Regions from separate parts of the Homo sapiens genome. Here region 1 is linked to region 2. The links come from fine-mapping of genetic effects on gene expression. A gene starts in region 2. The other region holds a variant in brackets. All regions are shown on one strand. Distances are from middle to middle. Region 1 overlaps MPP3 (MAGUK p55 scaffold protein 3). Region 2 holds the start of ETV4 (ETS variant transcription factor 4).

Region 1 (4,383 bases), 280 kb before region 2:
TGCGATGGCAGAGTTGAGTCGTTGTGACAGAGACTGTGTGGCTGGCCTCAAATATTTACATGTGGCCCCTTATAGAAAACGTGTGACAATGCCTGCTCTGAATGTTGAGGAAGCACAGGGCATTCCTCTCCCCAGCAGACAGACTGCTATCACTTTGGTCCTGGTTCAGCATTGATTTACCGAGCAAAGGGACAGCGTTGTTTATGAGATGCTCAGAAGTGGTGGAAGCCCAGAGAATTGAGATTGGCTCCAGAGGATCCCACAGCTGGCATTCTCTATTTCCAACTTTCCCCAAATGACCTCCGACGAGCCTCTTCTGCAAACAGACGAGGATCTCTCCTCTGCCTCTGTTTCCTCACTTGTAAAATGGAGTGGCCATCCATTGATTTAGCAAACACATTGTGAGCCCTCCTATCCAGGCTCTGTATTGGGTGCTGGCGGTTCAGAGCTGAATAAATGATGGATAGCGATGCTGGAAAGTTCTCAGTTCTGGGGGGCTAGAAGTCCTGAGGTTCTTAGCTGATGGCCTCTCTTTCTAGCAATAATTATCTTACGTACTTCAAATAGATGGCACAGATGATGTTAACAATAAGTGTGCAAATGTGTTTGCAGTTACAGCCACTAATAAGTGGTTAACATATGTTGAGTGCTTACTGTGTACTAAGTGCCTTGAGTGGAATCCTTGCAACAACACTGTGAGTTAAATGCTGTCCCACATCTCACAGGAAACAGGCTTGGAGAGGATAAGAGATTTCCTTGTTAAGTCCACATGCTTTTTGTAAACGGCAGAACTGTGTTCACACCCAAGGCTGTCCAGCCCTAGAGCTTAGCTCTTAAGCTTTCTGCCGTCCTGCTGCAGTCCGGCCTGTGTGGTGCAGGAAATCGAGGGCTCGTTAGTGCCTTTCTCATCCTAAGTGTCATCTCTGCTGTGCTTCATGGGCCAAGTCCTGGTCCCGAAGCCCTGGCTGGGGTGCATAATTGGTTTCCCTCAGCAGCAGCAGAAGGCCCGGTAACCCTGTGATTGGGTAGAGGCAGGGTGAGAATTAGCTGGCACGTGTCATCCTCATTATTAAATGTCTTTGCAAGTGGTAGGAACTGTGATATGAGAGAGATGTGATGGAGAACTTACTGGATTTGGCATCACAAAAAGCTTTCCCCTTTACCAGCTGGGTGACCTTGAGGATATTTAACTTCTCTGAGCCCCAGTCCCTCATCTAAAATGTTGCAGCATTATTGTGCCTTGTAAACTGTACAGTGCAGGGCTATATTAATGGGGGATGTTGGTTTTGTTTTGTCTTCAGCATTGGGAAGGTCCCCACTGATCTCTCTGGACTGTCAGAGGGAGGGACTGGGGAGGCTGTGTTGGGTCCAGAGAGTAGGGGTCTGAGGTTTGGAGCTGCTGCTTAAGAACCTGTCTCTTCTGTCTCGGGTTCAGGGTGCCACCATCCGGCGGGACGAGCACTCAGGGGCTGTTGTGGTGGCCAGGATCATGCGAGGAGGCGCAGCAGACAGGAGCGGTGAGTGGCGGCAGTGCAAAGCTGGCCCAGCCCCGATCATGGCCATTGTTCCAGAGCCCTCCACCTTTGCTAATAGGTCCCCTTACCTCCCTCCTATCAGGTCACCTGTTTGGGATTTGCTTTGCTTTCTGGGGTTGTGGCTGGAATTCTCATCTCCTTCCCAAGTCAGTAGAAATTTTAATAGAAAATATAGGCCAGCTGGGCATGGTGGTGCACACCTGTAATCCCAGCACTTTAAGAGGCCGAGGCAGGCGGATCACTTGAAGCCAGGAGTTCCAGACCAGCCTAGCCAACATGGCGAAACCCCATTTCTACTAAACACACAAACCTGGGAGGCGGAGGTTGCAGTGAGCCAAGATCATGCTGCTGCACTCCAGTCTGGGCAACAGAGTGAGACTCTGTCTCAAAAAAAAAAAAAAAAGAAAAAAAAAAAAAAGCCAGGCACAGTGGCTCACGCCTGTAATCCCAGCATTTTGGGAGGCCGAGGTGGGCGGATCACCTGAGGTCGGGAGTTCGAGACCAGCCTGACCCACACAGAGAAACCCCATCTCTACTAAAAATACAAAATTAGCCAGGCTTGGTGGCACATGCCTATAATCACAGCTACTTGGGAAGGCTGAGGCAAGAGAATCGCTTGAATCTGGGAGGTGGAGGTTGCAGTGAGCCGAGATCGCGCCATTGCGCTCCCGCCTGGGCAACAAGAGTGAAATTCCGTCTCAAAAAAAAGAAAAAAAGAAAAAGAAAATATAGGCCATGCACGGGTGGCCCACACCTGTAGTCCTAGCTGTTCGGGAGGCCCAGGCAGGAAGATTGTTTGAGCCCAGGAGTTTGAGGTTGCAGTGAGCC[G/A]TGATTACACCACTACACTCTAGAGTGGGCGACGCAGTGAGACCGTCTCAAAAAAAAAAGAAAAAAAAAAAAAATATATATATATATAAATAGTCATGGAGTACTTTGGGGTGATTGAGAAAAAGCTCATGCGTTGGTTTAGTCCAAGGACTGTGACAGTTAAGAATATAGCATGGGCTTGCGGGATTACTAACTGTGGGACAGGGTTGACACCCTTCCCCACCATCCCAGGTCTTGTCAAGCTACTATTACAAAGAGAGTGTTTGTGCCCCAGATTCGTTTGGGTAGAAAGGTTGAGAATCACCGGTGTGTGGAAGAGCTACTAAGCTGGGAGACAAACCTCCTGGTATAGGGCGATGTTACCCCCAAAGTCTGGGGGGTCATCGTTGCAGAGAATCCTAGACCAGCACTTTGCAAACATTAACGAGTCCACGAATTCCCTGAGCATCTTGTTAAAATGCAGACTGATTCAGCAGGTCTGAGCTAGGCCGAAGATTCTGCACTTTTAACCTGCCTCCAGGTGATGCTGATGCAGCCGGGCCAGTGCCCACTTTGAGTAGCATATAGGGCCCTAATATGCAGAGACATTAGTCATTCAGGCAGAGGCTCATAGTGTGTTTACACTCTTAATGATGTCTTCATTGGTGCCTTTGTCTTTCCTTGTTAAGACTTAAGAATGCCATTCTAAGAGTTAATGATAATTTTAAAGAAGCAGAGATTATAGCAAAAAGAACACAGGCTTTCTACATCATAATAACTGTGTTTGAATACTGGCTTCATTATTTCTCAGCAATGTGGCCTTAGGCAAGCTGCTTAATCTTCCTGGGTCTCAGGTGCCAACTTGTAAATTGGAGATTTTACTGGGTGATTTGAGCCCTGCATGCCGAGTGAGGTGCCCAGCACTTAGCAGGGCTTAGTTCGCCCCAGTCCCACCCATCAACTTTAAACCTCGAGTTGGCCCTGCAGTGGGCTTCTCAGGCCGGCCCCTGTGGTGCTTGGAGCTCTGAGCGAGGGGTGCTCAGGTCCTCCTCCTGTGCTGATGGTCAGTCCCTGTGTCTCCTAGGCCTGGTCCACGTTGGAGATGAGCTCCGAGAAGTGAACGGGATCGCAGTCCTGCACAAGCGGCCCGACGAGATCAGCCAGATTCTGGTCCGTGCTACAAGCCTGCTAGGGATGTGCTGGGTCTTCAGACACCCAGAGCAAGGCACTTCCTGGAGCCAGGACAGATTCTGGCTTAGCCTTGCTGTTGTCCTGAGGAGGTGGCAGGCAAAGTGGCCTTATGGTGTGCCCCTAACAGTGTGCCCGGGGTATGGGGTGGCAGCAGGAGGAGGGGAACTTCCCTTCCATCTGCCTCTCTTAGACCTTCTCCTCAGCACAGCCTTCCTTCCTTCCCCTGGTTCCCTTTCACAAGGCCCCTCCTGGGTCCTGGGTCCTGGGTGTGAATCCTGGCTCTGCCTCCTTCCAGCTGTGCAACCTTGGACAAGCCATCAGATCATCTGAGTTTCCATTTCCTTTCCTTTAACGTTGGGATAGAGTTTCTTTCTCAACCAATGTGTGGTTATCATTGGCATGCTAACATCTGGAAAAGGGTAAAGCCCTTCAGAAGTGTAAGGGGATTTTAAGGTATAAAATGCTTGGCTGAAAACCTCCATGGTCCATTCTGGGGAGTTGAAGTCAAAACTGAAATTGTGAAAAGCCCCAATCATAGCTTGGTCCCCTTTATCCTCAGGATTCCTCCCCTGACCTGACACTCTGCTAACTTCTGATGGTTTTGGGGGCAGAAACAGGATGAGATCTGAAAAGAGGAGGCCCACTGTTTAAAGCCCTCTCTGGGCTGGGCTCAGTAGTTCACACCTGTAATCCCAGCACTTTGGAAGGCCGAGGCAGGTGGGTCACCTGAGGTCAGGTCGAGACCAGCCTGGGCAACATGGTGAAACCCCGTCTCTACTAAAAATACAAAAAATTAGCTGAGTGTGGTTGTGGGCCCCTGTAATCCCAGCTGCTTGGGAGGCTGAGGCAG
Region 2 (4,383 bases):
TAGCCAGGCATGATAGTGCATGCCTGTAGTCCCAGCTGCTTGGGAGGCTGAGGTGGGAGGATAGCTTGAAGCCAGGAGTTTGAGGTTATAGTAAGCTATGATGGCACCACTGTACTCCAACCTGGGTGACAGAGGGAGACCCTCCTGTCTCTCAAAAAAAAAAAAAAAAAAAAAAAGGCTGGGCTTGGTGGCTCATGCCTGTAATCCCAGCACTTTAGGAAGCCAAGTGGATCACCTGAGGTCAGGAGTTTGAGACCAGCCTGACCAACATGGTGAAACTCCGTCTGTATTAAAAATACAAAAAATTAGCCAGGTATGGTGGCGGGCACCTGTAATCCCAGCTGCTCGGGAGGCTGAGGCAGGAGAATCGCTTGAACCCGGGAGGCGGAGGTTGCAGTGAGCCGAGATTGCACCTTTGCACTCCAGTGTGGGCAACAAGAGTGAAACTCTGTCTCAAAAACAAAAACAAAAAAACTCAGAACCAGAGGGGCACTGGCATCCCTAGAGAGGTCCCATCCTACTGAAGTGCCCAGTACCAACTTAAAGACCTACTGGACTCTTCTTCGTTGTCATGGAGACCACATCAAAGCTGCCTTCCAGGAAGAGCCCTCTGTCCTCCTCTCCACTTCTCTTGGCCAGAACTCACACTTGTCTCTAAACTGGTTCCATCCAGCCCAAAGCTGGGATTTGCTTGGGCTTGTTTCTCCTTCCTTGGGCAGGGTTCCTGCTAAGCTCAATTAATTTGGTCTTTATTGTACCTATTCACTACACAAGCATTTCATGCCACCCTCATAAGCATGCTAACAGGCTGAGGAGGACTTTCAGAGGCAAATGAGCTCTGGAGAGCTCTCCATAGATAAGGATGTCTATACCATGAGGCAGGATGAAAAACATCCACACCAGAGATATAGTCAAGAATGTTGTATATGGCTAAAGGAACTGATTCAGGCTATCATGGAAGGCTTCCTGGAGGAGAGGGACAATAGACATGAGCCTTATAGAATATTACAGCACCTATAGAAAGGGAAGTTTACTTCCATTTGCACAAGCAGATCTCATGGAATGAGCCCTTATGAACACTAAACAGCAATTGTATGTTTTAGCCTTAGTTCTGGCCAGACAGGCCCAAAGAGCTTACATGTGTCATTTCCTTCTCTGAAACTCCACTGCCTCATCTGTAAAGTGGCGGGTGTTAGGTTAGATGAATTTGGGAAGCCACTCCTGCTGGCCTGGCATTTGAACATTCTTTTGTGTTTATCACAAACAGGCAGGATAAAAAATCAGGCTGTCCTCAAAGGAGTGCATAGGCTGGAGACATAGAGAATTGTCTCAGCAAAAAGGCCTTTGAGGATTCATGTCCTTTGTGCCCCCATGGCCACAGCCCAAGCACCCCAGGTCCCCTCAGATGTCTGTCTTGGACATAGCTGCTTGCCTGGAACCCAGCACTGTATCTGACACGATAAATGTTTATTGAAAGAAGTGGTGAATGGATGAGATGACAGAGACTATGACCAGCTTCTTAGCTAAAACTGAAACCCATCCTGCCTCCAGATCATCAGAACCTTTGGGGCTTTTGCTCCTTTTGCTGGCTCTCAGATAAGAGGGAAGATGGCTGAGAGGGAGCTACACTTTCGGAAATCATCTACCCTGGGGCTTCTGGTTTCTGCTGCAATCAGTAGAAAGTGGGTCACAAAACAGCTCTGCAGAGAACAGACCCTTGAGGAAAAGCCTGGATTCTGTGCCAGTTTACATTTATTGATCACCTACTGTGTATCAGTTGTCACATAGCTTAACTCATTTAATCATGGCTTCAGAGGGGTGTACAGGAGAGTGTGAGGGATTTGAGGCTGTAAACCCCAGAGGTGCTGACTAGCTGAGTGACCTCAGGAGAGTTACCATCCCTCTCTGAGTTTCATTTTTAATATCTGTAAGATACAAACGATCCATTTCGCCGGGTTATGGGAACGAAATGAGCACGTGGAAGCGGAGCGCTTCATAAATGCTAGTTATTATTGTTCCTCTGGGCACACAAGCCCGGTCGCCTCCCTCCTGGGCGCACACAGACATGTTCATACTCCCACGTACACGCAGATGCAGAGACGTGTGCAGACGCCAGCCGGAGGAGCACGCGGCGCATCAGACCCAAGACCGTGGCGAGACGGTGAAGAAGCCGCGGGGTCCTCGGCTTCTCTCTTTTTCTCTCGGTTCTTTATGAATGAACTCCAGCCGCGAGTTTTATTTTTTTATGAATGGGAGCCGGAGCACTGAATGAAGCCGGGAGCCAACCCCTACATTCTGATTGGCCCCCGCGGCTGGGAAACTCCGCCCCCCGGCCAGGCCGGACGACTCTCCGGATTGGCGGGCGTGCCCAGCCCTGGGGTTCCATTCACAAAAGTCAATGAAACAAAGGGAAACGGGGGGCGGTGTGGCGGGGCGGGGGGTGGAGAGCTGAGGCCGAGCGAAGGAAATGCACCAATCAGCTGCTCCCCCGGGCTCACAACTGTCTGCTGCGCCCGAAAAACAAGTCGGTGCGCTGGGGACCCGGGGCCGGGGCCGCCTTACTCCGGCCTAGCCCCGCGGCCCTCGGTGCGGGCTCCAGGGCATGCTCGGGACCCCCCGCGGCTCCAGCCCAGACGCCCCGGCCTCAGGTGAGGCTGCGGGAGGGAAAGGGAGGGAGAGTGTCTGTGATTCCCCGCCTCGCCTCCAATGCACACCACACTCACTCTCACCACCCGCCTCCGCAGATTCCAGGGCGGGGGTGGGAGGTGCTGGGATTCAGGGTTGGAGGGGGCGCGGGAGTTGTGGGCATGCGATGGTGTGCGCTTCGCCTGCTCCTCCGCGCGCGCGCGCGTACACACACACACACACACACACACACACACACACACACACACACACGTTCTTATGTAACCGAGCCCGGGTAAAGCAGGGCTGCAGAAAGCAGAAACGGCGAGCCCGGCTCCTGGGAGCAGGTGGGACCTCCTTTGGCCTTTGGCGGGAGGGGAGTGGTGGTGGCGCTCGGCCTGGCAGGCGGAAACCTCGCCATCGCCCCAGTGAGTCGGAGAAGTTTCGCCGTCGGACCCAGAGCCTTGGGACTGCCCCCTCCCCGCCCCCATCGCAGCCCTCCCTGGACGGTGTGCGAACGCAGCCCCCTCCCCCACCAGGTCTCGGCCCCCGCTTGGGGCCCCGGCCGTGCGGCCGGAGGGAGCGGCCGGATGGAGCGGAGGATGAAAGCCGGATACTTGGACCAGCAAGTGCCCTACACCTTCAGCAGCGTGAGCGCCGCGCCGGCCTCCACGCCCGCCCCGCCCCGCACCCAGCCCCTACTCTCACCACAGCCCCCCTCCCCGCAGTCCCAGCGGAGTCCTGGGCTGCCCCGCCCCTGAGTCACCCGAGGACCCCAACCTCGTCCCCCAGACTAAGCGCCTCAGGGTGACTCGCGGGCATTCTCCCCGCTTCTCGCAGAAATCGCCCGGAAATGGGAGCTTGCGCGAAGCGCTGATCGGCCCGCTGGGGAAGCTCATGGACCCGGGCTCCCTGCCGCCCCTCGACTCTGAAGGTAAAGAGCAAGAGAGACAAACCGCGACCCTCCTCCGCCACACACACACACACACACACACACACACACACACACACACGGCCGATTCTGGAACCCCCGCCTGTTTCCCCAAAAAACTCGCCCTCCAAGGGATTTTGGTCATTCTTCTCGGTCCCTACTCCCAAGGCAGGGGAGTCACCGGGTCTTGCTAGGGCCCCTTCTCTCTTACCGTCCCCTCCACCTCACCTCCAATTCCACTATTTACCCCTCAGATCTCTTCCAGGATCTAAGTCACTTCCAGGAGACGTGGCTCGCTGAAGGTGAGTAGTTTTGTGACCTTTTCTATTTTGGGAGGCTGGACAGGGGGACACTCCGTAGCCCCTGGTATTCCACCCTAAGCCCTACACTTCTCCTCTCCCTTCCCTGCCTCAAGGAGTTCTCCAAGGCCCTCTCCCCAGGTCCCTTGCCACTCTACTCACCCCAGCACCCAGCGTGGACACTTATATTGATATTTATTTTCTCTACCCTGAGCCAGGCTTGTGTAACTAGGCTTGAGGATGAATCAGACCATTGTGTGGGGTATTTGCTTATTTGAATGGAACTTGGCCCCAGGCCCATTTTCCTGGTTGAAATTTTCATTTGTAAAGTTTGTTTTGCAGAAGCCGCCAGGCCAAGGTGCATGTTGGGGTGTTGTTGGTGGGGGGTGGGGGGAGAAATTAATTTGTCACTCATCCTCCAGAGTTGCCCAAGCATTGATTCTTATCCCCTGGGTTTCTCTTCTTCCCAACCCCCAGCACCAAACAATTTACTGTCCAAGCCAAAAGAACAACAAAAGTTTAAATAAT

What was found. PIP is the estimated chance that this variant, and not a neighbour inherited with it, causes the effect.
Region 1: its variant is the best candidate, but not a certain one, in a credible set for the expression of ETV4 in aorta (GTEx, PIP 0.87).

What each region holds. Positions count from the first base shown.
Region 1 is chr17:43,824,885-43,829,267 of GRCh38, reverse strand. It overlaps MPP3 (MAGUK p55 scaffold protein 3), which reads left to right. Exons shown (of 20, transcript NM_001932.6): 8 at 1,436-1,517; 9 at 3,427-3,512. Among named protein-coding and RNA genes, the nearest start is that of MPP3, 6.1 kb to the left of the region's middle. The variant G/A (reference allele first, on the strand shown) is at 2,364.
Region 2 is chr17:43,544,450-43,548,832 of GRCh38, reverse strand. It overlaps ETV4 (ETS variant transcription factor 4), which reads left to right and starts at 2,493. Exons shown (of 13, transcript NM_001079675.5): 1 at 2,493-2,648; 2 at 3,165-3,275; 3 at 3,466-3,559; 4 at 3,811-3,858. The coding sequence starts at 3,216. It also overlaps a transcript of DHX8 not described here. RefSeq lists enhancers at 2,068-2,227, 2,349-3,126, 3,127-3,904 and silencers at 2,318-2,367, 2,388-2,527, 2,578-2,697, 3,148-3,197, 3,238-3,297.